4 linked regions of the Homo sapiens genome follow. The protein of the gene in region 3 purifies or fractionates together with the protein of the main gene of each other region. This does not show direct contact. Each region holds a gene or a part of one and is shown on either strand. Other genes may lie near its edges. The genes, in order: WDR83, RBM22, SYF2 and AQR.

Evidence for each region.
Region 1: the proteins of SYF2 (region 3) and WDR83 purify together in Homo sapiens (affinity purification with mass spectrometry; 3 studies listed by BioGRID and IntAct, with this or other methods). This does not show direct contact.
Region 2: the proteins of SYF2 (region 3) and RBM22 purify together in Homo sapiens (co-immunoprecipitation; 3 studies listed by BioGRID and IntAct, with this or other methods). This does not show direct contact.
Region 4: the proteins of SYF2 (region 3) and AQR purify together in Homo sapiens (co-immunoprecipitation; 3 studies listed by BioGRID and IntAct, with this or other methods). This does not show direct contact.

The regions. Positions count from the first base shown.
Region 1 is NC_000019.10:12,669,793-12,676,340, reverse strand, and holds the end of WDR83 (WD repeat domain-containing protein 83), read right to left. Parts: coding exon 6,448-6,548; intron 6,365-6,447; coding exon 6,244-6,364; intron 6,162-6,243; coding exon 6,056-6,161; intron 5,779-6,055; coding exon 5,730-5,778; intron 5,647-5,729; coding exon 5,520-5,646; intron 3,872-5,519; exon of another isoform or gene 3,761-3,871; intron 3,495-3,760; coding exon 3,427-3,494; intron 3,334-3,426; coding exon 3,225-3,333; intron 3,140-3,224; coding exon 3,025-3,139; intron 819-3,024; coding exon 669-818; 3' UTR 550-668; downstream 1-549. Other genes in the region: DHPS (deoxyhypusine synthase), read left to right, coding at 199-324, 408-503. UniProt on the Homo sapiens protein: Molecular scaffold protein for various multimeric protein complexes. Acts as a module in the assembly of a multicomponent scaffold for the ERK pathway, linking ERK responses to specific agonists.
Region 2 is NC_000005.10:150,698,048-150,706,014, reverse strand, and holds the start of RBM22 (pre-mRNA-splicing factor RBM22), read left to right. Parts: upstream 1-4,952; 5' UTR 4,953-5,029; coding exon 5,030-5,083; intron 5,084-5,517; coding exon 5,518-5,571; intron 5,572-6,743; coding exon 6,744-6,773; intron 6,774-7,383; coding exon 7,384-7,516; intron 7,517-7,967. UniProt on the Homo sapiens protein: Required for pre-mRNA splicing as component of the activated spliceosome. Involved in the first step of pre-mRNA splicing.
Region 3 is NC_000001.11:25,229,486-25,237,417, forward strand, and holds the start of SYF2 (pre-mRNA-splicing factor SYF2), read right to left. Parts: upstream 3,018-7,932; 5' UTR 2,983-3,017; coding exon 2,959-2,982; intron 2,727-2,958; coding exon 2,619-2,726; intron 1-2,618. UniProt on the Homo sapiens protein: Involved in pre-mRNA splicing as component of the spliceosome.
Region 4 is NC_000015.10:34,868,724-34,875,745, forward strand, and holds part of AQR (RNA helicase aquarius), read right to left. Parts: intron 6,142-7,022; coding exon 5,954-6,141; intron 5,277-5,953; coding exon 5,105-5,276; intron 2,200-5,104; coding exon 2,029-2,199; intron 1-2,028.

The sequences.
Region 1 (6,548 bases), on a different chromosome or scaffold from region 3:
GGGGAAACACAGCCATCGTTGCCCAGCAGCTCTAGTGACCCCAGACATTGACATGGGCCCTGTCTGGGAGCGAATGTCTGTGAAGGGCTTCCTTCATCTGGGACACACCTCTCAGCCTGTTTGGCTACGGTGTCCTCCCTCTGTGTCTGTCTCCTGTGACTGGCTGACTGGGCCCACCGTGCCCCCGCCTCCCCACAGCGGAACGGGGCCGACTACGCTGTTTACATCAACACAGCCCAGGAGTTTGATGGCTCTGACTCAGGTGCCCGACCAGACGAGGCTGTCTCCTGGGGCAAGATCCGGGTGGATGCACAGCCCGTCAAGGTAAGCGCTGGCTGGGTGGGGCATAGGGTCTCTGGGACGATGAGTGTGGGTCCCATGGCTTACCCAGGTTCCCCCCTACCCAGGTCTATGCTGACGCCTCCCTGGTCTTCCCCCTGCTTGTGGCTGAAACCTTTGCCCAGAAGATGGATGCCTTCATGCATGAGAAGAACGAGGACTGAGCGGCTGCGGTCCCAGGAAGGTCTTACCCCCTCTTCTATTTATTAATTTGCAGACCCAGCCCCTCCCCTACTTTTTGGTCAGCTACGTCTCTAGAATAAGATGGTATCTGAAGTCCTTCCATGTCTGTGTCTCGGTCCTTGGTCCTGTTGGTGGGTCCCCTGGCTTCAGCCTGCTCCATCCTCTGCCTCATAGGCCTCCTCTCGCCAGCACTGGACGCTGCCTCCCATGGCGGTCAGCAGGCAGGGCTCTGTTGGGTGGTAGGCCAGCGACTGCACCACACCGGAACCCACAGGCAGGGCCAGAGCCAGCGCACCCTGTGGAGCGAGGGGTAGGGAGTGGTTATCTGTGGCTGGGCTGTACCCTGGTTTCTGAGGTCCCTGGGCACCCCCCATCTCAGTCCTGCCTGAAGCCCTCAGTCACCTCTCCCCGACCTTCAGCCACCTGCCTCTAATTGCCTCCTAGACACTGCAAAATTAATCTACCTCAGACTGAGCCCCTCAGTAGCTCTGTCCTACCAGGTGTTCAGGCCGCAAGTCTTGGGAGCCTCTTATTGATTTTTTATTTTTTAAAATAGCAGAGATGGGGTCTTACCATGTTGCCCAGGCTGGTCTCGAACTCCTGGCCTCAAGTGATCCTCCTGCCTTGGCCTCCCAAAGTGCTAGGACTACAGGTGTGAGCCACCATGCCTGGCTTTGGGAGTCTTTTTCTTTTTCTGTTTTTTTTTGAGATGGAGTCTTGCTCTGTCGCCAGGCTGGAGTGCAGTGGCGCCATCTGGGCTCACTGCAACCTCCGACTCCCTAGTTCAAGCGATTCTCCTGCCTCAGCCTCCCGAGTAGGTGGGATTACAGGCACGCGCTACCATGCCCAGCTAATTTTTGTATTTTTAGTACAGATGGGGTTTCACCATGTTGGCCAGGATGATCTCTATCTCCTGACCTCGTGATCCACCCCCCTCGGCCTCCCAAAGTGCTGGGATTACAGGTGTGAACCACCATGCCTGGCCGGGAGTCTTTTTCTTGTACCACATGTTCCTCTATCAGTTATTCCTCTTGGCTCTGCTTCTAGACCATGTCCAGAGACTGCTGATTTTCTGCCACTACCATGTTTGGAGCATGCCTTGCTCACAGCTTGCCTGTTCCCTGCCACCAGCTGGGCTCCATCCTGTCCATTTGGCAGCCCCAATGATCCCCACTTCCCCTGGTCCCAACACAATGTAAACAGTTCCTCAAGCAAGCCATGCTTCCTCTTTCCACCTTGAAAATGTCCCTTGATGTGCCTGCCCTCCAAGGCAACTTCTGTTCTACTGGGCCCATAAGAAATAGGTGGAACATTCTTGCTACCTTAGTTCCTAAAGCAAGAGCTTGTCCGCCAAGTCTTCAGGGCCCCCCCGGTTCCCTCCATCCTCTTATGGGCCTTAGTTCCCCTGGCCAAGCCCAGCGCTGATGTCTCCTTTGCCGAGATTCCCCCGGCTCTGACCCCACTACACCAGGATGGTCTGTTTCTGGCCTGACTCCCCACCAGGCTGGGACATGTCAAGGACAGGGCTCAGGGCTTGAAACCATGCACAGGGATGCTAAGATGTAGCTCCAGTTTCTTGAATGACTGCAGCCCTATCTCACCCAAGGTTAGACATGGCCGTCGGCTCCCCCTTGCCCAGGGGTCAGTGCCAGTTGCTCGGCCTGGCATCTGCAGCCCAGCCTGACCCCGGATCTTGCCGCACCTGCCGCCACCCTGAAGCCTTTGTTTCCTGACTGATGCATGCGCAGGCTACACCTCTTAACATATGCTGTTCCCTTTGCCTGGAATGCCCTTCCTGCCTCATCTTCTCTCTAGCCCAAGCTGGGCACGGTGTCTCAGGCCTGTAATCCCAGCACTTTGGGAGGCCGAGGCGGGTGAATCACTTGAGGTCAGGAGTTTGAGACCAGCCTGGCCAACATGGTGAAACCCTGTCTCTACTAAAAATACAAAAATTAGCCAGGTATGGTGGTAGGGGCCTGTAATCCCAGCTACTCAGGAGGCTGAGACATGAGAATCACCTGAACCCTGGGGGGAAGAGGTTGCAGTGAGCTGAGATGGCGCCACTGCATTTGCCTGGGCAATAGTCTCAAAAAAAGAAAAAAGGGCCGGGTGTGGTGGCTTACGCCTGTAATCCTAGCACTTGGGAAGGCTGAGGTGGGTGGATCATGAGGTCAGGAGTTTAAGACCAGCCTGACCAACATAGTGAAACCCTGTCTCTACTAAAAATACAAAAATTAGCTGGGTGTGGTGGCACGCACCTATAATCCCAACTACTCAGGAGACTGAGGCAGGAGAATCGCTTGAACTTGGGAGGCGGAGTTTACAGTGAGCCAAGATTGCGCCACTGCACTCTAGCCTGGGCGACAGAGCAAGACTTGTCTCAAAAAAAAAAAAAAAAAAAAAAAAAAGATCCTAGCCTTCAGGCCCTGGAGTGACTGAGGTAAGGACAGGGCTGAGATGGGGCAGGCATCTAGGTATGAAGTAGGGCTGGGGGCACCTCACCTCCACCAGGTCCCAGAAGAACACCTTCCCGTCCTCAGAACAGCTGACCACATGTGTGTCACGCTCGCTCAGGCAGCAGTCCAGCTTGTATTCCTGGTTCTTATGGCCCTTGTACCTAAGGGTGGACAGGATCGGGGGGCTTGGTCCTCTCCAGGGGTGGGAGAGGAGGGAAGGGGATCCCCACGACCACAAGGACTCACTCGCCCAGCAGCTCCCCTGTGTCTTTGTCCAGGAGCCGCAATGTGGAGTCCAGGCTGGACACCAGGGTGCACTGCCCATCCCGGCTGAAGCAGGTGCAGGTGATGGGGCCTTGGGGGAAGGGTGGGTAGGTGAGTGAGGGTGGGGTGCCCCTGGTTGGCCCCCCATCTTCCCTGCCTGTCCCACATCCCCAGCCACACTCACTGCCCACGTAGTCTGAGAAGAGCTGCCCCATCCTTAGGTCATAGCGTCTCACGCGGCCATCCACGGAGCTGCAGGAGAGGGTAGATCCAGCGGGAACCTTGACTACACTCACATGGCTCCAGGCAGCCCTGTGCCTTCCCAGCCCAGTGGGCCTGCTCTTCCAGTGCACAGGAGTGGAATTCTGAAGCTCTGGCCTTGAGACTCAGGCCCAGGGCCAATTACGTCCTACTCCATCATTTCCAAGACCCACACCCCCTTTCCAAGCCCTTGGAGTCCTTCTGATTCCCCCTTTTCTTCCTTTTGTTTGAGACAGAGTTTTGCTCTTGTTGCTCAGGCTGGAGTGCAATGGCATGATCTTGGCTCACCGGAACCTCTGCCTCCCGGGTTCAAGAGATTCTCCTTCCTCAGCCTCCCGAGTAGATGGGAATACAGGCATGCACCACCACGCCCTGCTAATTTTGTATTTTTAGTAGAGACGGGGTTTCTCCATGTTGGTCAGGCTGGTCTCGAACTCCCAACCTCAGGTGATCCGCCCACCTCAGCCTCCCAAAGTGCTGGGATTACAGGTGTGAGCCACCCCACCTGGCCCAATTCCCCCTTTTCCTGCATTCTCCAGCTCCTCCTCCTCAGTACTCAGTCCCACCACTTTCCCCACTACCCAGCACCAGCATCTAGACTGTTCTGGTCTCCCTGCACCCCCCACAGCCACCAGAGGGAGCACTTTTCAAAGTACAGTTGACCCATGAACAACACGGTTTGAACTGAACGCGTCCACTTATATGTGGATTTTCTTCTGCCTCTATCAGCTGTGAGACACCAAGATCAATCCCTCCTCTTCCTCCTCCTCTGCTTTCTCAACACGAAGATCTTTATGACGATCTCTTCACTTCCACTTAATGAATAGAAAATATATTTTTTCCACCAGGCGCGGTGGCTCACGCCTGTGATTCCAGCTCTTTGGGAGGCCAGGGCAGGTGGATCACGAGGTCAAGAGATGGAGACCCTCCTGGCCAACATGGCGAAACCCCGTCTCTACTAAAAATACAAAAATTAGCTGGGCGTGGTGGCACGCGACTGTAGTCCCAGCTACTAGGGAGGCTGAGGCAGGAGAATCGCCTGAACCTAGAAGTTAGAGGTTGCAGTGAGCCGAGATCACGTCACTGCACTCCAGCCTGGCAACAGAGCGAGACTGCGTCTCAAAAAAAACAAAAATTCTTCCTTATGATTATTTTTATGTATTTATTTATTTAATTTATTTACTTATTTTGAGACGGAGTCTTGCTCTATCGCCCAGGAGTGTAGTGGTGCGATGTCGGCTCACAGCAAGCTCTGCCTCCTGGGTTCACTCCATTCTCCTGCCTCAGCCTCCTGAGTAGCTGGGACTACAGGCGCCTGCCACTATGCCCGGCTAATTTTTTGTATTTTTAGTAGAGACGGGGTTTCACCGTGTTAGCCAGAATGATCTCGATCTCCTGACCTCATGATCCGCCTGCCTCTGCCTCCCAAAGTGCTGGGATTACAGGCATGAGCCACAGCGCCCGGCCTATTTTTATTTATTTTTAGAAATCATTTTATCTTTTTTTTTTTGAGATGGAGTCTCACTTTGTCGCCCAGGCTGGAGTGCAGTGGCACAATCTCGGCTCACTGCAACCTCCAACTCCCGGGTTCAGGCGATTCTCCTGCCTCCGCCTCCCGAGTGGCTGGGATTACAGGCTCCCGTCACCACACCTGGCTAATTTTTGCATTTTTAGTAGAGACGGGGTTTCACCATGTTGGCCAGGCTGATCTCAACCTCCTGACCTCAAGTGATCTGCCCACCTTGGCCTCCCAAAGTGCTGGGATTACAGGTGTGAGCCACCGTGCCCGGCCAGATTATTATTATTTTGTAGACAGTCTGTCTTTCACCCAGCATGGAGTGCAATGGTGCCTCGAACTCTTGGACTCAAGTGATCCTTCCACTTCAGCCTCCCAAGTAGCTGGGATTACAGCTGTGTGCCACTGTGCCCAGCTGAGAGTAGGTTTTAATCTGAGCATGGGGGCAGCTATGATTCCCCGTAGCACCTGGGGTGAGACCAGGTCCTGGCTCCACTCACCCTGCCAGGATCTCGTGGTCTGACACCTTCACACTGGACACGCCATCTCTGGCCTCATCCAGCGTCTGCACTGGCTCAGGCCTCCGTGAGCGGCAATCCCAACAGCGGATACTGGAATCAATAGAGCCTGTGAGGCCAGCATGATGGTGAGGTCAGGTTTGGAGGGGGAGGGCAGCACCCTGGGCCCCCGTGCTTAGGCCCCAGACTCACCGGACAGGATAACTGTGGCCTCTTCATTAAACTGCACCGTGTTCACCTTCTGAGAAAGTTATTGCCACTCAGAGGAGGCTGGACTTTGGAGGACTGGGATAAAGGCAGGGTTCCCAGTGTCGGTTAAAGCAAGGGCGAAGGGGAGGTGAAAGGTTTTGGGGGAACAGCAAGGACAGGGGTTGGTGACTGCCTAGCCTGGCATGCGGAGTGGGGGATCGTCATCTGGGGAAGGGATCCTTACGGTGTAATGGGGGTGGCCGTGTCACCACCTATGCGCTAATACGGGTCCCCTCCACTCAAATGAGGGTCTCCAGGCTTTCACTCACCCCTGCGTGGCCCCGGAATTTGCGCACGACCTGCCCTGATGCCACATCCCACAGAACCACCGCCTTGTCCCCGCCGCCGGAGCAGAGACTACTGTTGTCAAAGGAGCTGGAGTAAAGGAGGAGGAGGATCAGCATCGACCTCGGATCCCAGCCTCAGCGCTCCCATCCCAGCCTGGTCCCCGGCTCACCCGGCCGCATCCAGCACCTCGTAGCCGTGGCCGCTGTACGTCCGCAGCAGCGTCCCCCGAAGCGGGTTCCACAGCTTCAGCGTCTTGTCACTGCCGCACGTCAGGCAGTAATTGCCATCCACTGGGGAACACCAGGCGGGGGTTACTGGGCCGTCGATCTCAGGAGGCGGGAGGAGGACCCGGAATGAAGACGAAGGCGCTCACCATTAAATCGTACGGCTCGCACTGCCCCCTGCCCGCAGTCCAGCGTCTTCAACCGTTTCTGCGGCAGCTCTGGAGGCCGCGGCTTTGGCTCAGGGAAAGCC
Region 2 (7,967 bases), on a different chromosome or scaffold from region 3:
GCAACAAAAGCAAAACTCCATCTCAAAAACAAAAACAAAAAACAAAAAAAAAACCCAAGCCCCGCTTGATTCCTAACCAGATTGACCAAACCCCATGCAGACGGTCTAACAGAACACACTTGCCCATTTCCGAGCATTAATATGATTTACCTCATTCTCTTCTGTTATATAAGCAATGACTTGGCCGGGCACGGTGGCTCACGCCTGTAATCCCAGCACGTTGGGAGGCCAAAGCAGGCAGATCACTTGAAGCCAAGAGTTCAAGACCAGCCTGGCCAACATGGTGAAACCCCACCTCTACTTAAAGTACAAAAATTAGCCAGGTGTAGTGGTGCAGGCCTGTCGTCCCAGCTACTCAAACCCAGATGTTTGAACTAATGGACAGAGACTTTAACATGTTGTTGGGGCTCAGAAAATGATACCCCAAATTAAGGCTCTGAAGCAGCCTCAGAAGCAAAAGTTTCTCTCTGACCTTCTGCCTTCCTGTCTCTGGCCCTTCATTCTTCCCCAAGCCTAGCCACAGACACTGAATCCCTTTTCCTCAAGGTGGGTCATAGAGAGAACCCCTTTTCCCCAAAGCCAGCCATAAAATGTAAAATACTACTCTAGGCCGGGCGCGGTGGCTCACACCTGTAATCCCAGCACTTTGGGAGGCAGAGGCAGGTGGATCACAAAGTCAGGAGTTCGAGACCAGCCTGACCAACATGATGAAACCCTGTCTCTACTGAAAATACAAAAATTAGCCAGGCATGGTGGTGCGTGCCTGTAATCCCCGCTACTCAGGAGGCTGAGGCAGGAGAATTACTTGAACTTGGGAGGTGGAGGTTGCAGTGAGCCGAGATCGCACCATTGCACTCCAGCCTGGGCGACAGAGCAAGACTCTGTCTCAAAAAAAAAAAAAAAAAAAAAAACTACTCTAACTTCCGCCTTGCTTTTGTGTAAAAACTGGCTCTGAATAAATTATCTGAGCTACTTTGTTTTAGATTGTAGGTCATAAGACCCCCATTCCAAAGACGGTCCTGTACATACCCAGAAGGAAGGAATGCTGCCGAGAGAGGCCAAGAATCTAGACAGACAGGCCTCGCTGGGTTTCCCCACTCAGTCTATTAGCGCTAAATCAGTACGCTTTTTGTCCAATCCTATTTCTACATAGCTGTCCATACTTTGTTGAACCTAGGCATATAAATGGACAATTTCCCATCTGTGTCTTCATTCTGAAGGCTCCTATGTCAGGTAAAACTATGATCAAATAAATTTGTATGTCTTTTCTCCTATTAATCTGCCTTTTGCTAGTTAATTTTCAGTGAATCTTAAGAGGGCAAAGGGGAACTTTTCTGTTGGCCCCTACAATGTTAAAAAATCTGGTGGAAAACATGGAGCCAGGTGCCATGGCTCACACTTGTAATCCCAGCACTTTGGGAGGCCAAGGCTGGAGAATCACTTGAGCCCAGGAGTTCCGAGACCAGCTTGGGCAACATGGTGAGACCCTGTCTCTACAAAAAAGTTAAAAATTAGCTGGGCACCGTGGCCTGCTTCTATAGTCACAGCTACTTGGGAGGCTAAGGCTGGAGGATCCCTTGAACCCAAGAATTCCAGGTAACAGTGAGCTATGATCATGCCTGGGTGACAAAGTGAGACCCCCATCTCGAAAAAAAAGAAAAGGAAAATATGGATTATATATATTGTGAAAGGAAATTAAATCTTGGGACCCCAAACTCATTAAGCCAAAGGGAAAAGTCGAGCTGGGAACTGGGTCACACAAACCTGCCTCCTGCTTTTGGTTCCTAAATAAGATGGCTATAAGATGAAAAGCTACATGCCTCCCCCATATGTTGCCCAGTAATTCAGACCCTTCCATTAAACCAGCAAACCTTTTTCATTTACAATCTCATTGGACATGTTTGGTATTCCAGTGCTATGATCACTTAGCTTCAATCTTTGTACCACAGATAGGTATCGAAGATGTTATATGGCATATAGAGGCCATAACGAATTACACCCAAAGGCCCTAAATGGTAGCTGCATGAGTACCTCTTTGCTAAGCAATGAGGTCATGCTTATGAGGAAAGCTGTGTTGCAAAACTATGTGGCTTTAGATATACTCATGGCAGCACAAGGGGAACCTGTGCCACCGTAAAAACTGAATGTTGTGTGTATATTCCAGATGAATCAAAGAACATAAACTGAATTATGACCAGTATGAAAACCCAGATAAGCAACTGTCAGATCCAAAACCCTCACTAATCCATTGCTTGAGTGGTTGGTTTGGATCCTGGGGAATTTAGTGGCAGAAGCTATTGCTTATAATAGAAGGAATAATTTATGTTCTGTCCTGTTTCTGCTTACAATGTTGTTATAGTACGTGTTTGCAAATAAGTCAATATGCAACCGAAAGGGCTAAGGTAATGATTGCCCAGAGAATTGCTTTAATTGAGGAGGCAGTAATATAATAAAGCTTGACCCAGCTTCCAGGTTTGCTTTCCTTTTGTTGCTATAAATCTGGCCTAGTCCCTATATATATTTTTTCATCTCTTTTCTTTTTTCCTTTCTAGGAAAGTAAAATTCCTCACTAGGAATTTCCTTGTGGGCAAAATATGGGGGAGGCATGTAGCTTTCCATCTTGTAGCCATCTTATTTAGGAACCAAAAGCGGGAGGCAGGTTTGTGTGACCCACTTCCCAGCTTGACTTTTCCCTTTGGCTTAATGAGTCTGGGGTCCCAAGATTTAATTTCCTTTCACATTTCCCCCTTTTTTTCTTTAACATCTTTTGGAGAAAGCATTTTAAAAGGAATATGTGTTCCTGGCCTCAGTTCGCTTTTTCCTCCTTTTTTGAGCTGGTTTCTTGTCGCTAGGATGGTTTATTCCAGGAAATTCAGGTCTCACGTTACTAGGAAGGCTCATTCCTAGGAAGTCATGTTCCATGTTGCTAGGAAGGCTCATTCCTAGAAGTCATGTCCCACAAAGATTAAAAAATAAATTGGGGGAGGAAAGAGGGAAAAAGGAAGGAAAGGAGATGATTCTGAGGGCTCCAGACTTAAAGGAGAAAAGGGTCCTATCTCTTTTCTCTTAATGTTAAATGTTATTTTGTTTGTGGAATGTTCACTCTATAATATATATGTTGATTAAGTATACCATTATGCATGATTTGCAATATTGATTGACCTGTGGAGTGCCTTGAGCCTGTGTGTCCAAGACTCTGAGTGCTGAGTGAGTGGGAAGTACTAAGGAGAATTGCTTTCTTGGAAACTCCATGTAGTTCGTGGCTTTTGTGATTGAAATAGCATCAGTAAAAGTCTGGCATTGTGGAAAAACACAAATGTACGTGGACTCTGTTATTTCTGACCTTGCACTCCTCACAAGGCATGTGAAATTGGAGTCACAGATGTAGAAACCAGGCAGAAGACAGTCTGAAGAGATGATACTTGAGAATTTTCCAAATATAATAAAAGACAACAAATCACAGATCCAAGAAGCTCAGATAAACCCAAGGACTTTCTTATAAAGGAAAAGATATACTTACCATATGATCAAATAATCTCACTCTAAGGCATTTACACAAGCAAAATGAAAACCAATGTCCATACAACGATCTGTATGTGAATGTTTATAATGGTTTTATTTATATTCACTAAAATCTGGGAACAACCCAAATATCCAGCAACTGGCAAGTGAATTGTATGATATATCCATACAATGGAATTCTACTCAGTAATACAAAGGAAGAAATTATTGATACATGTAATAATATGGATGAATCTCAACTACAAAATACTAAGTGAAAAAATATCAGATCCAAAAGGATATATAGGATTCCACTTATGTGACATTCTGGAAAAGGCAAAACTAGGGACAGAACACAAATTAGTGATTGCCATGGTTTGAGTATGGGATAAGTGGACTAACTACAGAAACAAGGGAACTTTGGGGATGACAGACAATTCCATATTTGACTGTAAGTGAATGTATGTACAAAATTCAAAACTAAAAAGGATAAAACTTTATGTAAATTATACTTTAAATCAACTTTTTTTTTTAATGAGGTGATTTAAATAAATGTGTTAGGTAGCTTGATGACACGGTAAGTATGAAAGTGGTACCAGAATGGCTTGAAACTCATAAAATATTGGCAGAGTGGTTATGAGTTATTCCAAAAATCAAATAATGCATATGTTGATTCGTAAGACCCTTGTCATTTCAGAAGCTGGAAATGAAACAGTACTAATGAATTTGTGGCTTCACCACTTTTTAGCTCCACAACCAGGAGCTATATCAGGAGAGATTAGGTTAATCTCTCTAAACCTGTTTTCTTTTCTATAAAAGAGGGATCATCATACTTGCCTACAGGGTAGAGTTACCAGATAAAATACAGGACGATTGGTTAAGTGATGTGAATTTCAGGTCAACCACGAATCCTACTTTAGGACGAGTAGGTACCATATATATTTATAATTAAAAAGCGATTCGCCGTTAATCTGAAATTCAACTTTAGACGTTCTGTAATTCGTGCGTGTGTGTGTGTGCATGTGTGTGTGTGAGTGACAGAGAGAGAGAGAGAGAGAGAGAGAGAGAGAGAGAGACAGAATCAGAATCTGGCAGCCCTACAGAGAGCCCTACAGAGAGGTTATGCGAATAAATAAGACACTGGAACCGCAAGACGTTCGCCCAGAGTTTGGCATAATAAGCGCCTCAGTGGTAGCGAACGCTATTTTAACCCCAGCCTCTGATGCATTACGTCTTCCTTTATTCTTTCGCCCAATTGTTAAATGAATCAACTGTACGTGTGGCCCTTCATTCCAAGCAGGCAAAAACTCGAAGGAAGCATCCAGGTGCATTATACCAGGACCCCAATTGTTAAGCTTAGAAATTCCAAGAGCGGGCGACGTCATGACGCAAAGGCCCCGCCCCGGAAGAAGCCCTAGACGCGTAAATAAGACGCCGACCGGCGCGGCGCTAGCCTCGGGGCTTGACGGGATTGTGGCGGTCCTCTCTCCCAATTCGGAAGCTACAGCTACCTCCGGACGCTCTCAAGATGGCGACCTCTCTGGGTTCCAACACCTACAACAGGCAGAACTGGGAGGATGCGGTGAGTGTGCCTGCCGGAGGAGGATGGAAGGAGGAGGCGAAGCCGCGCACCTTGCAAGCTGGCAGGACAGGGCCTGCGGCGCGGCCGAAGGAATACCGGGGAGGAGCCAGCGCGGCGGCCTAGCTTGGCCGGAGCAGGAGGGCGGAGGGCGATCCTCCTGCGGGCTTGAAGGGAGGGGGCTTAGCCAGGGTCCCGGGACCAGCACCCTTTCCATCCCTGCCCCCTCCAGCCTATTAGAGCTGGTTTTCTTTTCTCCCGCCGCCTGCCGGAAGTGCAGACAGCGCCCCCTCCCGCGATCGGGTCGTGATGGACTTCGGGTTCCTGCCGTGCCTAGTTCCCCACCCTCGCTTCCCGCCCCCTCGCCACCCCAAGTGTCACTGAGGTGTCAGGGTCTTCGGAGGGTGGTCCTCAACCAGATTTCCCATTTTCACCAGGACTTCCCCATTCTGTGCCAGACATGTCTTGGAGAAAACCCATATATCCGAATGGTGAGTGATCGCGTGTGAAACGAGTTATTCATGTCCTGTCGATGTTGTGGTACTTGCACACTGTGAAGTGTTTCTCTTAGACAAGCAGAAAAAATGATGCTCTTTTACTAACGCGAAGTGCTGGACGACTTGCAAAGAACTGTCATGTGTATTCTCTTACGAATCCGGTAACACTCCTGTAATGTAGGGGTAATAACGATAGCTAGTATTTGTTGAGCATTTACCTAGGAAATAGGTCTGTTGACCAGAAGGTGAGAGCGTTTGTGTCTTTTCATACAATAGTAAGGAATGGAGCTGGGATTTAAGTTCACATATTCTGGCTCTAGGAATGTCAGCATGATAGGAGGAGAACCAGAACTAGAAACTAGGTTTCCTGAATCCTGGTCAAATGCCTTTTGGCCAGTGTACTTTATCTCTTTAAAGTAAGCATTCCCCCTTTGTTACAAACTAGGGTAAAATTAGAACCAGTTAACAATAATAAGGTTAGGGCTGTATTATTGTGTAGTCGTAGAGGTGTTGATATGTTAGTATGTTCACGATGTTTGAATGGTTCAAGATGTTTGAATAGTTCTGTTTAAACAGAACATTTACTATATTCCGGGCATTGGCACAGGACAAGTCTACAGTAGCTACCTTTTGACTAAACTTTGTAAAGTGGGCGGGCCACAGCTGTATCCTCTCTGATTTAGGGATTGTGGAAAGCATTAGGAATGTTAGTTCTTGGGAGTGAACTTGGGAGCCAAAAATGAACCTAAGAGTTGTGGCTGTGGAAAGACACTCACTTACCTAGCATTAGATGCATATACTCTATTTCTTTTTTCTGTAGAGACAGCATCTCGCTATGTTGCCCAGGCTAGTCTGGAACTCCTGGGCTCAAGCAATCCTTCCACCTTGGCCTCTCAAAGTGTTGGGATTACAGGCGTGAGCCACTGCCACCCAGCCCAGATCCATATACTCTTGAGATGTTATCACTTATAATATGTTGTTATAGTATGTTCCCTACCCTCTTCCCAAAAAAGGTTGGGTTTTGGGTTTTGTTGTTGCTGTTTTTCTCTCTCTAGGATGCCAGGGATTTCCAGACACATTTCTTGGGTTATGTTTAAGGAAAGAGTAGACATCTGGCTTTTTTCTTTCTGTAACTCCAGTTCTTTTCTATTTTTTTTCTATTATAGACCAAAGAAAAGTATGGGAAGGAATGCAAAGTAAGTATGTCTGTTAAAGAGTAATGATTTCTGTTTCATTTTTCTTTTCTCTACCAAATTAGCCTTCAGCTTACTAAGTTTTGAGGTCTTCCAGTAAAAATCAGTGCTATACAACTTTTTATGTATTACTGATATATTCATTGGCTGGCAACTGTTTATGTGGGAGGTAAGAAAATGAACCCTCTAATGTAGAGATTCTTACGGTGTCAGTGGATGGGCACTGGAGGAGTTTGTACACCAGGTGGTGTATGACTGTCCACTCGAGCATTTTAGCTGAGGAGGAAGGTCATTCTTGTCAGAAGCTTCTCAAAAAATTACATGACACTCCCCACTCCCCCTAAAAAAGATTAAGGTTCAGATTATTATTGGTGCTTAGCTCTAGGATGGGAAGAACTTTGACCCTTTGGCTATTTCATTTCTGTACTCTGAATTTTTGCTGGAGAAGGATGCTGAAAATTGTATTGAAACATCAAATCAACTAGATGATTGCTAAGGTCTCTTCTAAATCCTACATTCAGGGATCCTTTTTTGAATGCCCCGTTGTTATCAGATCTCCAGATTGCCCAGATCAGGACCATTGACATTCTATGGCTCTTGCTTTGTGTTCCAGATCTGTGCCAGGCCATTCACAGTGTTTCGCTGGTGCCCTGGAGTCCGCATGCGTTTCAAGAAGACTGAAGTGTGCCAAACCTGCAGTAAATTGAAGAATGTCTGTCAGACCTGCCTCTTAGACCTAGAGTATGGTATGTTTGACCTGTCCAATAAATCTGAAAGTGTGCAGGTGCCTAAAACTACAAGTCAGTCTTTTGTCTCCCACTTCGCACCCTAGCTCTGGTTCTGATTTCACTTTGGAATGTCTGCCGTGGTCTGCTTTTCCCAGGAAAAGAACCATAATTAGGCCACTCTAGAGTCCTGAACAATAGTAGGAACTTAAGGAAAAGTTGGGAATTAATCAAAAGTGGCCTAAACCTTCATCTCTGTAGCCCAAGTGAGGTAAAAGGCGTTGATCCTATGATAGATAATTTATTTGCCTTAGGCTTCTTTCTTGATCCAGAGCTTTTTTCCACCATCCCAATCAGAAGCTCACAGGGTAATTGTGCTTTATTTTATTTTATTTTTTGAGTTAGGGTCTCACTCTGACACCCAGGCTAGAGTACAGTGGTGTGATCACAGCTCACTGCAACTTCGAACTCC
Region 3 (7,932 bases):
TTAAATTGGCCAGGTGCAGTGGATCACGCTTGTAATCCTAGCACTTTGGGAGGCTGAGGCAGGTGGATCACCTGAGGTCAGAAGTTCAAGACCAGGCTGGCCAACATGGTGAAACCCCGTCTCTACTAAAAATACAAAAATTAGCGAGGCATGGTGGTGCACACCTGTAATCCTAGCTACTCGGGAGGCTGAGGCAGGAGATTCACTTGAACCCAGGAGGCAGAGGTTGCAGTCAGCTGAGATTGCACTACTGCACTACAGCCTGGGTGACAGAGCGAGACTCCATCTCAAAAAAAAAAAAAAAAATTACGTCACATGATGTGAAAGACACTCTTTCTTTTTTTTTTTTGAGACAGAGTCTCACTCTGTCACCCAAGCTGGAGTACAGTGGAGCCATCTCAGCTCATTTCAACTTTCGCCTCTGGGGTTCAAACAATTCTCATGCCTCAGCCTCCCGAGTAGCTGGGGTTACAAGCGTGTGCCACAATGCCTGGCTTATTTTTTTGTATTTTTGGTAGAAACGTGGTTTTGCAGTTTGGCCAGGCTGGTCTCAAACTCCTGGCCTCAAGTGATCTGCCCGCCTGGACCTCCCAAAGTGCTGGGATTACAGGCATGTGCCACCACACCAGGCCTCAATTATCTTTTAATCCTAATTCAAGAAAAAAGCCTCAATTTGGGTTAGAGGATTTAAAACCTATCTTAATGCCTCTAATGCTTTCCAAGTTCCCCTCCTTTTAAATATTTTCACAGTTTGCATTGACAAATGAAAAATGAAAGGAATTTTCCATTTGAAGTATCATTGAAGAGTCTTTTTTTTTTTTTGGAGCTGGGGTAGCAGGGAGAAGAGTCTATTTTTAAATAAACTTAATTGCATAAAGCAAAATGAGTGTATCGTCTTAAGGAAAACTTGAGTTAGACATTCCTTAGGTCATAAGCTGGTGGCAGTTTGTCCAGGAAGCCCCGCCTCCTAATTTCCAGACATGTGTTCCTTACACAATCACTCTAAATATTTAAGCATGTCTTTTTAATTGTTTATTAGATTAACTTTCCCTCGGCAAAGAGAGATACTCCTCCCAACTACCATCCCTAGTATATTCTTGGCCCTGGAAAAGCCCTGCAATTAAAGACGCCAAGAACATACCTACGGTCAACAAAGTTGAGTCTGTTGCACAGAAGAGAGCAAACCACGGGGAACCGTGGGCATTTGAGTGACAGGGTGTTAGGAAGGGCTTGTTCCAGGATTTGGGTTTGTATCAGGTGACTGAGGGGAGGGTTAAGGATGTGGATTGGGTACTGTCAGAAAGCAGGGGCTTTCTACAATTAGGTATCTTAGATTTTTTTTTTTTTTTTTTTTGAGATGGAGTCTCGCTCTGTCGCCCAGGCTGGAGTGCAGTGGTGTGATCTCGACTCACTGTAAGCTCCGACTCTCGGGCTCATGCCATTCTCCTGCCTCAGCCTCCCGTGTAGCCCGCCAGCACGCCCGGCTAATTTTTTCTATTTTTAGTAGAGACGGGGTTTCACCGTGTTAGCCAGGATGGTCTTGATCTCCTGACCTTGTGATCCGCCCTCCTCGGCCTCCCAAAGTGCTGGGATTACAGGCGTGAGCCACCGCACCCGGCCCAGTATCTTACATTTTTATATAGGAGGCAGAAGTAACGGAGTGAGACTAATGCTGTATTTGTTAATAACAGTCACTGGTGTTAGTCAGAAGAAAGAAATATGTGGTCATTCTTGTAATTTGAAAAGTCTTCTTTGTTTTGTCTCACTACAACAGTCAGAGTGATTTTGGGATTTTGTGAAACCATGGCCTAGCTGTCAGGTCACTCCATGGTGAAACAGGGGCTGCTTTTCTCTTTCTCTGCTCCAACTGCAGCAAGCTATTTGCTGGACTCTTATCCCTAATACAAATTCTCTTTCTTTGAATTTGTTCCCTTTGCTTGGATATCTCTTTCTCTAACTCCTTTAGTTGTCTGGCTTTCAAACAGTAGTTTAGGTGTCACCTACTACATGAGGCACCCCCTGGAGACCCACAAACTGCATTCCTCTCTCCTCCTCTGCACCTCCAGGGCACTTAAACATCAGATTCCCTATCAACTGGCTGAACTACCACACTGTAGACTTTCAAAAGTTTGCCATTTTTTTTATTTTCTTTTTATTCTTTTCCCCCAGAAGTCCCAAAAACAGATGATTATTTTCTTTTCACTCAAACAGATTCTGACAGAAGATTATTATTTTTTAAAGTGAACCAGGTCTCTTACTGACACTAGACAAGTTTCTTCCTGTCTCTAGCTCTACATATTTCCCTAGGTAAAATGAAGAATTTGTTGGAATCACGGAGCAGGGAGGTTGTTAGTAATGGAGACTCCCAAACCTAACCCAGATACATTAAATTGGATGTGGGTGGGAGAGGGGCTGGAGTGAACAGTTATATTTTCAAATGTTCTCAGAATGATCCCAATGTGCTGCCAGGGTTGAGTACCACCGAACAGAGCTTTCCTCTCAGATGATCCTGCTCTGTTGGTCTGTCAGACGCAGTGGTGTGGCTTCCTCGTCCCCTCTACAAAAGCGCACAGGCTTGGCCAGATGACGGATCTAAGCCGGCCTCCAAGACTACTCACCCGCATCAGGTGCAGCTCCCGGAATTTGCGCAGTCTCTGTTCGCGCTTCTGAGCGGCCAGCTCCGCCGCCGCAGCGAGGGACCCCTCCTCCGCGCTGTCCACCAGCACCTGCGACAAGGAGAACTGGCTTCAGGCAGAGCCGGCTCAGCTTCTCCCAGGACTGCCCAGGCCGAGTCCCCGCCGGTCCCCACAGGCTGGGCCTAGGGCCTCCACCGCCGACTTGACCCCACAGTGTCTGAGCCTCCCTGAAGCGAAACTAGACTTCGCCTCCACCTCTCTCCAGGCCGCTCCCCGGAACCCTCACCAACAAAACCCCCGGTGTACGGTGGGTGGAACTCACCTCGGATGCAGCTATAGCCGCCATCACAACCTTTCTCTCTTCCCACTTCCGGCAACAAGATAGAGCACTTCCGTCAACCTTCAGACAAACGGGCCGATACGTACGAATGGGCTACCATAAGCCCCGCCCCTTCCGGGAGGTCTCCGGAAGTTGGGACCCTTTTAGCTATGAAATATTTTGGATTGCGTAGGGTCTTGCGCAGCCGCGAAAAGTAGCGTGGGCCAGGACAGCGGGAGGTAAGTCGCCAAGAAAAGGGTTGGGAAGAGCTCAGAATCGGACGGCTAGGAAGAAATGACCAAAAGGAGCCTGATAGCCCCCTATTCTGCACGCTGTTCCTGGAAACCGCCTTTGCAAAGACAGTGAGAGAAATCTAACATGGCTCACTCCATCTTGCTTCTAGCCTCGCAGGCCGGCTGTCTTCGCTCATTCCTGGGCATAAACCAAGCTAACCATGGGAGAATTTATAGTTTAACTTTTAAGCAAGGATGATCATAGTCCCTTCCTTAAACAGGGCCCCTCCTTGTTTGGGGGCTGAAACTGCCTTTATAAAACTAATGAAAGACCGGGAGGTTAGGATTATGAGGGGAGAATTCTGCTAAAATGTAGTAAACGATAACCAGCCATTGTTTCGGAGGACATCGGATGTGTAACTTCCCCAATTATTCCTGTAGATAACGTTATCGTAGCACCTAAGATTGGTCTTTTGAGGCATTTTTCAGACTTTCGCATTCTGGCAACTAACTGACCCCACCCAGACTCGTGACCCATGACCCAACCGCTTCTTCTGTCCCACTCCTCCCCCAAGAGGCGGACTCAGCTGTTGAGGAGTGTAGTCCACACCCCTGTGATTGCATCTCCAACCAATCAGCAGCATCCATTCCCTAGTGCCCTGCCCACACCAAACTATGAAATACCCTAACCTCTGAGCTGACCCTTCAGGAAAACTTACTTGAGTGGTAACCCTTCTTCCCTGAGGCCAGCCTCAGGTTAATACAACTGTATACTGCAGTAGCACTTTTCAGTGAATTGGTTTTGTCTGCAGTAAGCAGGAAAAACCTGCAGTGCCATTCATTCCCATGAGTGGAAAGTTCTTTCCATTTAGAGCTTAAGGTGTTGTCACTTTCTCCAAGAAGCAGGTCTTGCCCTTGGCCTGGTGTGGTGGTTCATGGCTGCAATCCCAGCACATTGCGGGGCGGAGGCGGGAGGATTGCTTGAGCCCAGGAGTTCAAGACCAGCCTGGACAACAAAGTAAGAATCAGTCTCTAAATTAAAAAATAAAAGTAATTTTTTTTTGTTTTTTTGTTTTGAGACAGAGTCTTGCACTATCACCCAGGCTGGAGTGCAGTGGCACCGATCTCGGCTTACTGCAACGTCCGGCTCCCGGGTTCAGACGATTCTCCTGCCTCAGCTTCCCGAGTAGCTGGGATTACGGGTGCCTGCCACCATGCCCAGCTAATTTTTGTATTTTTAGTAGAGATAGGGTTTCACCATGTTGGCCAGGCTGGTCTCGAACTCCTGACCTCATGATCTGCCCACCTCAGCCTCCCAAAGTGCCGGGATTACAGGCATGAGCCACTGTGCCTGGCCATAAAAATAAATTTTTAAAAATAGAAGCAGGTCTTCCCTGACTACCCTGTCTCACTTTTAGTACTGTCATTTGACACTATTTTAATTCTCTCCAATTGCATAAGTTTTATTTTTGTCTGTTGATTTTCTATTTTTCTCATCAGCGTTATTACTGGAGAACAGCAGAGTCCACCCATCTTGTTTACTCTTACATGCTCAGCAGAGAGGCAATGCCAGAATTACTAACAGTGCTAAAGTTACTAAGATAAGTAAGGTGCTGGATATAAGAGGAATATATGAAAATTATTTTTTTCTGCACTAACAACTACTAGTTAGATACAGAAATGAAAAAGTAGGCCAGGTGCAGTGGCTCATGCCTGTAATCTCAGTACTTTGGGAGGCCGAGGCGGGCAGATCACGAGGTCAGGAGATCAAGACCATCCTGGCTAACACGGTGAAACCCCATCTCTACTAAAAATACAAAAAATTAGCCGGGCGTGGTGGCGAGCGCCTGTAGTCCCAGCTACTCAGGAGGCTGAGGCAGGAGAATGGCGGGAATCCGGCAGGCAGAGCTTGCAGTGAGCCGAGATTGCGCCACTGCACTCCAGCCTGGGCAACAGAGCGAGACTCTGTCTCAAAAAACCAAAAAAAAAAAGAAAAGTAATCCCTAAAATGAAAAGATACCTAGGTACAAAATTTAAATGGTAACATAAAAATAAAAGATAATTTGAAGTAAATTAAATCTGAATAAATGGTGGATAACCTATTTTCTGGTTGGAAGACTTAATATTATAAAAACAATATCACAAAGGAGTATCGCAAATGAGTTTATAAATGTCATGTTATTCCCATCAGAACCTCAGTGGGTCATTGTTTTTGTTTTTTGGAACTGGAAAATAATGTGGCAAAAATCTTAGAAGTTCAATAACACATTGTGTTGATGAGACCGAAGAAAAATGAATCCTACACATATTGCTGGTAGGACTAAAAATTGATTGAACCCCTAGGGAAGACAATTTGGCAATATCTGTAAAAATTAAGGCATTTACTCTTTGACTCAGCTATCATAATTCTGGGAATTTATGTTACAGATACAATTACACATTGAAAGGAAAATAAATCTTGGGGCCCCAAAATCACTAAGCCAAAGGGAAAAGTCAAGCTGGGAACTGCTTAGGGCAAACCTATCTCCCATTCTATACCTGAAAAAGCCACTAAGATAAAAAAGCTACCTACCTTCCTCACAGGGAATGTCCTTGTGGACAAAGGACAGAGAGAGGCAGGCGGATCACCTGAGGTCAGGAATTCAAGACCAGCCTGGCCTACACGGTGAAACCCCGTCTCTACTAAAAATACAAAAATTAGCCGGGCATGGTGGTGCGCAGCTGTATTCCCAGCTACTAAGGAGGCTGAGGTGGGAGAACTGCTAGAACCTGGGAGGCAGAGGTTGCAGTGAGCCAAGATCGCTCCACTGCACTCCAGCCTGGGCAACAAAGGGAGACTCCATCTCAAAAAAAAAAAGCCATCATCTGTTTTGGGGGTGTAATAAGATATATGTACTTCTGAACCATGTAAGTATTTCGGCCGGGCGCCTTGGCTCACACATGTAATCCCAGCACTTTGTAAGGCCGAGGCAGGCAGATCACCTGAGGTCAGGAGTTCGAGGCCAGCCTGGTCAACATGGCAAAACCCCGTCTCTACAAAAAATAAAAAAATAAAAAAATTTAGCCTGGCGTGGTGGCGGGCACCTGTAATTCCAGCTACTCTGGAGGCTGAGGCAGGAGAATTGCTTGAACCGGGGAGGTGGAGGTTGCAGTAAGCCGAGATCACGCCATTGCACTCCAGCCTGGGCAACAAGAGTGAAACTCCGTCTCAAAAAATAAATAAAAAATAAGTGTGTCAATTCTAAAATTAAAAAAAATTTAAAAGTTTGCATGGAAAAACTAAGAATAGTCAACAGTATTTCTGAATAAAAAATAGAATCGCGGCTGGGCGCGGTGGTTCACACCTGTAATCCCAGCACTTTGGGAGGCCAAGGCGGGTGGATCACGAGGTCAGGAGATCAAGACTATCCTGGCTAACATGGTGAAACCTCGTCTCTACTAAAAAATTAGCTGGGCATGGTGGCGGGCGCCTGTAGTCCCAGCTACTCAGGAGGCTGAGGCAGGAGAATGGCGTGAACCCGGGAGGCGGAGCTTGCAGTGAGCCCAGATTGTGCCACTGCACTCCTGGGAGACACAGATTCCGTCTCAAAAAAAAAAAAAAAAAAACCACACAATTACATGTGGTTTTGTGCCTCTTGGATTTCAGTTATTGGGGAAGAGTAGTGCTTACATCCTTCTTATTTTACTGTTATTAAGAATCCTGGCTGGCACGGTGGCTCAAGCCTGTAATCCCAGCACTTTGGGAGGCCAAGGCAGGAGAATCCTTTGAGCGCAGGAGTCCAAGACCAGCCCTGGCAACATAGCGAGACCTCATCTCTACGCATGGTAGCCTGCCCCCGTAGTCCCAGCTACTCGAGAGGCTGAGGTGAGAGGATTGCTTGAGCCTGGGAGGTCAAGGCTGCAGTGAGCCCTGATCACACCACTGCACTTCAGCCTGGGTGACAGAGCGAGACCCTGTCTTGAAAAAAAAAAAAAAAAATCCTATTCCTGCCAGTAAAATTGGGCTCTATATTACCAATTTGTTTATATTGCAAATTAAAATCTGCAAGTCTGGACTTAAAAAAATGGAAATGTTTGTAATTAACTAAAGTTTCTGGAAGTGATAAGCAGTATAGAAAGGAAAGATGTGTGGTAAAAATTGCTCAACTGATTTTGTAAGGATTTATTAAGAGTATTCACAGGATTTTCAACATTGCTTTTCTGTGCAATATGATAATTTGTGTGATTTTTAAAAACTGGGCTGGCTACAGTGGCTCACGCCTGTAATCCCAGCACTTTGGGAGGCCGAGGTGGGTGATTTGCCTGAGCTCAGGAGTTTCACACCAGCCTGGTCAACACAGTGAAACCCCGTCTCTACTAAAAATACAAAAAATTAGCCAGGCGTGACTGCGTGCGCCTGTAGTCCCAGCTACTCGGGAGGGTGAGGCAGGAGAATCACTTGAATCCAGAAGGCGGAGGTTGCAGTGAGCTCAGATGGCGCCACTGCACTCCAGCCTGGGCGACACAGCAAGAGTCCGGCTCAAAATAAAACAAACAAACAAAAAAAAAACTGTTATGAACTGTATCATTTCTCTATTGTGGCATAACAAATCATCCCAAAACTTGGTACCTTAGCACAAATATTATTTTATTATTATCTCTCATAGGTCTGAGAATTGGTGTGGTTCTCACACAGGGTCTCTCATGCAGTTGCAGTCAGATTAGGGGCTGGGGCTGGAATCATTGTAAAGGTTTCCTCACTCAG
Region 4 (7,022 bases), on a different chromosome or scaffold from region 3:
GCCAGTTCTAGAATTACATAAAAATAGCATCAAAAGGATATATTCTTTTGTGTCCTGTTTCTTTCAATCAGCATGTTTCTGAGATATATTCATGTATGTGTACATGAGAAATTCATACCTTTTTGAGTATTCTTTCACTGAACAAATATACCACAGTTTTGTCCACTCACCTTTTCATGAAAAGTTGGCCTGTTTCTAGTTTGAAGCTATCTTGCATAAAGCTGCAATAAATATTCATGTACAAATATTTTTGTGGACATGTTTTCATTGCTCTTGAATAAATATGCAGGAGTGAAATTGCTGAGCTGTACAGTAAGTGCATACTTTATAAGAAACTGTCAAACTTTTCCAAAATTGTTATCCCACTTTACACATTCCCCAGCAATGTGTAAACTCTAGAACCCCAGTTCTAGAGTTTCAGTTGTTGTACATCCTTGCCAACATTTGTCATAATGTCAATCTTCATCATTTTACCCATTCTTTTGGGTAGGTAGTGGTATATCATTGTAGCTTTAATTTCTATTTCCTTGACAACTAATGATGGTAAGCACTTTTTCATGACGTATTGGCTACCTGTAGGTCTTCCTTATGTGAAGTGTCTGTTCAAGTCATTTGCCCATTTTGTATTGGTCTGCCTTATTTAGTAATAACTTTTATAGGAGTTCATATATTCTGGATATACGTCCTTTGTTGTTATGTGTGGATATTATACCTGGGAATTCTGTTGCCACTCTGACCATGTGGAGAACTGGGCTCACATGCTGACATTAGCAGGGCAGAATAACATCGTTGAGCTACCCTGTAACCCAACCTTGGAACCACCCTATTTCCATCTTGTTATGAGAGAAAGTAACTTTCCTTATTATTTGAGTAAGATTTTCTGTAAAAGGACTCAAATATTGAGGTCCTTCTATTTCTAAACTTGCAAAATTATTAGTTTCTCAGTTTCACTCTATTCCTTATGAAGTATTCTGTGCAGTGTCTATTCTTCCCTGTATTCCTTTTGATTTTGTTTTCATTCCTCTGATTTTATTTTCTTCCAGCTTACATTTCATCTCTTTCTGAGTTCTTACATTTCTCTGCTTTGTAGCTTTTCCTCAAAGATATGGTTACTTCATTAAGTATTTCCCAATTTACAGCAAAATGTATATTTGAAAATTTCATCTTTTCCAGGCCAACATGGTTTCTGGAGCATGTATCCTATCTATGTTTTGCTGTTCTTCATTTTTTCCTATAAATTGAGCTTGTGCTAGTTCCCTTTATACTATTCATCACTGAATAAGTAAGTTTCTTAGATTAGCTATGTGGGAGACATGAAGATGGGGTGAGCAAGGCTGTTTTCTGAAGGCTGGACGGTTTTCATAACAAAAGGCCCTCTTTTCTTCTGCTACTGCACAGATAGTCTATAAAAATAGTTTGTCCCCTCTTTTTCTCATTTTCCTGTTACATTTGCATAATTTCCAAAAAAGGTGAGCTTTTACATAGCCATGTTCATAGCCAAAGTCCTAATTTTATCATTAGTATTATCTTTATGTTTTTTCTAATGTATTCTACCCTTCATTAATGAAAGAATCATCATTTTATTTGATATTATGCATTTTTGATTACATAAAAAATATATATATTTTTAAAATCCCAAGGTCTGAATACATTTTACAATCTTCCCTTATTCCCAAGACAACCTCCCCCTATACACAATAAAAAGCAGTCTAAATTATACCCCTGCAAAGCAAAACATACTCCTTGTAACAGTACACATATTATAATGTAATTTTGTTATATATCATTTTATGAACAAAAAGTTTCAGAAACATTTCTTTTACCATCAATAAATATCTTTTATGTGGTAGCTGAGATAGAAAGTCACATCAAACCAGCAAGACTGTCAGAGAGTTATTTATAGTTCCCATTATTTCATTTTCTCAAATATCTTAAAAAGAGATAGCAAAGAGGCAAAGCAGAACAATATAAACCTTTCCATCTTGCCAAAATGATGAATAAGAGAACATATTATAATTATAAAAGTACCTTGTTTGGTCTTCCAATCAATGGATTGTTTCCACATCGTCTATTGATGATGTCGCGAATAAGATGCTTTTGGCCATTATATGTTGTTAGAATACTGATTTTGTCAGCAGGGTAACCAAGTAAACACATGTACATAAAAAGTGCTACTACATATTCTGCCTCTCCAAGATTCTGTAATGCAAACATAATCAGACTGTGCATTCATTTGCTTTTGTTTCAATTTTATAGAGAAAATATCTCATCTAGATAAGCAAAACTTGTTCACTTTGCACACTGCAAGAAGTGAAGACTTAGTAACTTGGATAAGTGAGTACCTTTCATAAAACTGAGGGATAATTTTATGCTACATTAACAGTGATAAATACAAACTTTTAATTTGCAATACATGGAACAATCCTAAAATAAAACTTACCAACTTAAAGGCTTAATATTCCTAAGACCATAACAATCACAATATAGATTAATACTATTCTGGCCAGGCATGGTAGCTCACATCTGTAATCCCAGCACTTGGGGAGGCCAAGGCAGACAGATCACTTGAGTCCAGGAGTTTGAGACCAGCCTGGACAACATGGTGAAACCCTGTCTCTACTAAAAATACAAAAATTAGCTGGGCATGGTGGTGCATGCCTATAGTCTCAGCTACTCTGGAGACTGAGGTGGGGGGATCGCTTAAGCTTGGGAGGCAGAGGTTGTGGCGAGCTTCAATCGTGCCTCTGCACTCCAGCCTGGTGACAAAGTGAGATCTCATCTCCAAAAAAAAAAAAAAAAAAAATTCTATACAATGTGCCACAACTGTAGTTACACAGACACAAAACTATAAAGGAACAAAGTAACTAAGAAGCCAATACAATACCCAGTTTAATAGCAAATACACCTAGCAGTATTATAATTGACTCAATTTTTGCACAGTGCTTTTCCTCCTTCCTCATGTTTCTTAATGTTTTTTGTATGCTTTGTTTCTGTTCTCTGCGTAATGGTTGTCACTTCTACTAGATCACTTTAGGTGGGATGAGGATGTGACCGCAAATTGGTCAGTCTGGTTTACTGTTAAATTACAGACTAGAAAGGAGCTTAAAACTAAGGCTTATTCAACTTAAAGGTGAGGAACCACACACAAAGCTCTTTGGTCCAGTTCAGTAGAGACTAAATCCAAAGTACTAGATGAAAGAAGAAAGTAAAATAAGAATATAAACACAATATTTAAAAAAAAAAAAAAAGGAAGCTGGATTTCATGCAAAGGCAACCGAAAGATTACTGGAAGACTTCTAAAAATATCATTTATATTCTGGTTCTTTGTGACGCACAGCTTGAGTTACAAGTTCATTTAAGTTTTCTAGTTCTTTAACACTGCCCAATTTGGTACTTTGCCCAAAGGTTAGACATGAAGCATTAACAATAAAACAACATGAACTGTATTGTGACCAAACATTTTAGAACTCGCTCCAAATGAGTCAAGTCCCCTTCAAATTAGTGACTTTTATTCATTTATCCACCTAGTCTTTCCCTCTCGACACTAATTCTTCAAATGTTATCACTTAAATGCATAGTATTCTTATTTTGGGGGACAGTGTTTTCAACTCTCCAGAAATATATTTAATAGTGGCAAATCATCATCTGAAAATATATTTATTTCTTGAATCGCTAAAAACTCATCTAGAGTTAGGCTTAATGAATAAGAAAAACAGGTAACCAATCTGGATAAAAATGTTTCAATCAATACTACAGTATGACTCAGGCAATGAAACTGACTCAAAGAAGAAATTCCAAAAAACCAATATGTAATGAAAACATCAGTTGATTACTGATAGAATAATTAATTTCTAAGGTGGCTATTAGGAAACATCACTGATTTGAACTAGGTTCTAATATTTTTAAAGTTATCATTTAAAGGTCACATCTGTTCTCAGGCATTAAGTACACAAATAGAGTAACTTGATTTAATATAACCAAATATTTGGAGGGACAATAAGATCTGCATGAGTTACATCTATGCATACACATTTAAGCTGATGATAAATGATGCTTTTTCATGAATAACTCAAGATCTCTAATTTGTATAACAACCTATATTGGATATTTTGCTGTAAAGAGAGAGAGAAAAAAAGAAAAAAATTAAAATAACCCCAAATGCTACCAACCAAAGACTATATTTTGATGTATATGCTGCCAGGTCATTTTGTATAGATTATCTGTATGTATTTCTATATGTATGTATTGCAGCTCCTTTTTAAAATGAGATACTGTAGATATACTTTGCAACTTTTTTCCACTTAATATAGCATAAACATTCTTCCTGTTAGTAAATACAATGTTATCATTCTTAGTGGCTATCTAGTATTTCTTTTATATGGAATATGTAATAATGCAATTAATCCCTACTGACAGATATTTGGGTTGTTTCTCATTTCCAGAATAATTTGCAGTGATGAACATGAAGCATACAAGTCTTTCCAAACTTGCCCAATTATTTTTTTAGGATAAATTCCTAGATGTGAGAACATTGCTTTTCATACATGCTGACAATTTGTCCACCAAATTATTTTCCTACTAGCATTGTATGAGAATAAAGTTTCCCCAAACCTATCCCAACACTGAGCATTGTTATAGAAGTGAAAATGTAATTCAGTGATTTATACTTGTTATAAAATATGAATTGCATATTCATATTTTCCTGTTAGTCTTGATTTTTTAAAACAATTTATGAGTTCTATAAATATATTCAGAATTCAACTTGTTTGTTAAATATTGAAATAAATTTTAAATACTGAAAATAAATCTTTTCTCCAATCGCTATTTTTCTTTATGATTTCTGCTTTTGTAACAAGCTTAGGAAGACCTTTCTCACTCCAACACTGTATATTCATTAATATTTTCTTCTAGTAGTTTCTAGTTTGTTTAGTTTCTTTAGTGCATGTATTTTTAATCAATCTGAAATCGATTTTTCATATGCTATGTGTAAGGTGGGGTTCCAACTTTCCTTTTCTCAACGGCCAAATGGTTAAGTATCACTGATTTAGGCATATGTCAGCCAGCAAATGCAAAATAAACTTATAAGCTTCCTATTTTTTCTTACCTGATAGAAGTAAGGATTAGGTTCAGATTCTCCCACTCCTTGAAAATCTTCAACATTAATGAGCTGGAAGTCATACAGTAAGCCAGCATTTGCTGTACTAAACTCTGGCAAGAGCTGCACATGGGGTAAGTTTCCTAGATTCTTGTATCGCCAGTTGTAGAGGTTGCACAAGCTTTCCAAAGACAAATTCCCCCACAAACAGAAAATATTAGCAGTGTAAAATCTCTTTTAATATACATAAGGAGGTTTCTGTTTCTGTGCTTCTTTTAAATTTTCATGTTAGCCATTTTGGCTCATCTTTTAAGCAATAATGCTCTTTCAACCTTAGCTTCCCTACTTCAAGTAACCAAGGGTCAGAAGACTGAAGGTACTACAAAAATGAGAGTTCTATTACGCTCTCTGAGGTCAATGCTATCTTTATCCCTTAAATTAAAAAATCAAGGAAGACTAAAAATTGAGGACATTTGGGGGTAACTATGAGATGGGGCCTGCATCCTTTATGAAGTAAGAATTGGTGTGTTCTCCTCTTGTTCACTTTATTTTTAGATTTTAAAATTATATTAACTGTATATCTTTTGGGGACATGAAGAAAGGAGAAGGGACAATGAAAAGAAGCCTTTAGATTATAAGTTACTTAAATTAATATTAATGAATGAAATGAAGGAAATAAATTATTTGGTCCATTCACATCTCTTGCAGAAGTCGACAAAAGTGCTTTTGGATTTATGGATAGCCAAGTTCCTGGATAGCCAAGAATGCTAATAGTCTACACAAAAGCTATTCACAAATACTTGGATCATGGAACAAATGTCCTTAAATGGGAATGATTTTTTTTCCTGTCTCTTTTACCTTGCTCTGGCTCTCCCTTGAGCATCAAGGTCAACAGTCGGAACTCCAACGCGAACAAAGCGAGTGAAGAGAGACTGCTCCATGTTTGAGTACTTTTGAAAGGCCATGTTCTTAATAACTGGAGGTAACTGGTGATGATCGCCAATCATAATCCATCGTTTTAGTCGGCTAAATCCATCCTGAGGATTCTAGAAATGAAAAGTAAGGAAATGGCAAAATACTCTATTATCCTCTTGTCTCCAATTTATTACCCGAGAGACTCAGTCTTCATCAAACAGCTTCCTTATCTTACAAATTACCAAACTTTACCAGCTCCACAAACAGGAGTCTAGCAAATTTACAGAACAATTTGTGAACCAATTATGGACGTTATTGCTCCTGGGTGACAGTGGGTGAGGGAGAATGGAGGTATTTAGAAGGCAAGCATGGAATTACCCTACTTTAATAGGCAGGGTAATCCAAAGAAGGCTGGAAGGATTAGGTCAGGCATTAGGTAACGAGCACACAGAAAGAAACAGAAGCCCAAGAAGAGAAATGGAAAGATGCGAAATAAACATGTTTCACAATTAGCTGAGGACCAATTCTGAACCCACCAAAGCAGTAAAAACTACCTTCTTTAATTATCTACACTACTACTTCAATTTCCTACTCTATATGTCTCCTAGTTCCTTGAAACATATCCTGATAGAATACATTCCAAGTTCCAAGTAGCTTCACTTATAAAAACAACTTCTGGAACTCAATTTATCTGCATATTAGAGTGGTCTCTATCCTTAAGTTGGGAATTCCACATTTTGTTTTTAATGCTTCAATAGTAAAGAATATTTTACAGTAAAAAAATTCTTAAATAGCACAATTTAGCTCAAAAACTTAGGCATAAAGAAAAGCAATGCACTCAGTGAAAATGAAAAAAATAATTCTACAAACAATTATAACAAAAGAAATGAAGAAACAGCTCATCTTCCCACCAAACTGCACAACAATGTAATTTTCTTGATTAAAATTACTAAATCTTTTCAAAACTACAGAAATAGACTATGAAATTTTAAATAGTACTTCTCGAAGCAAA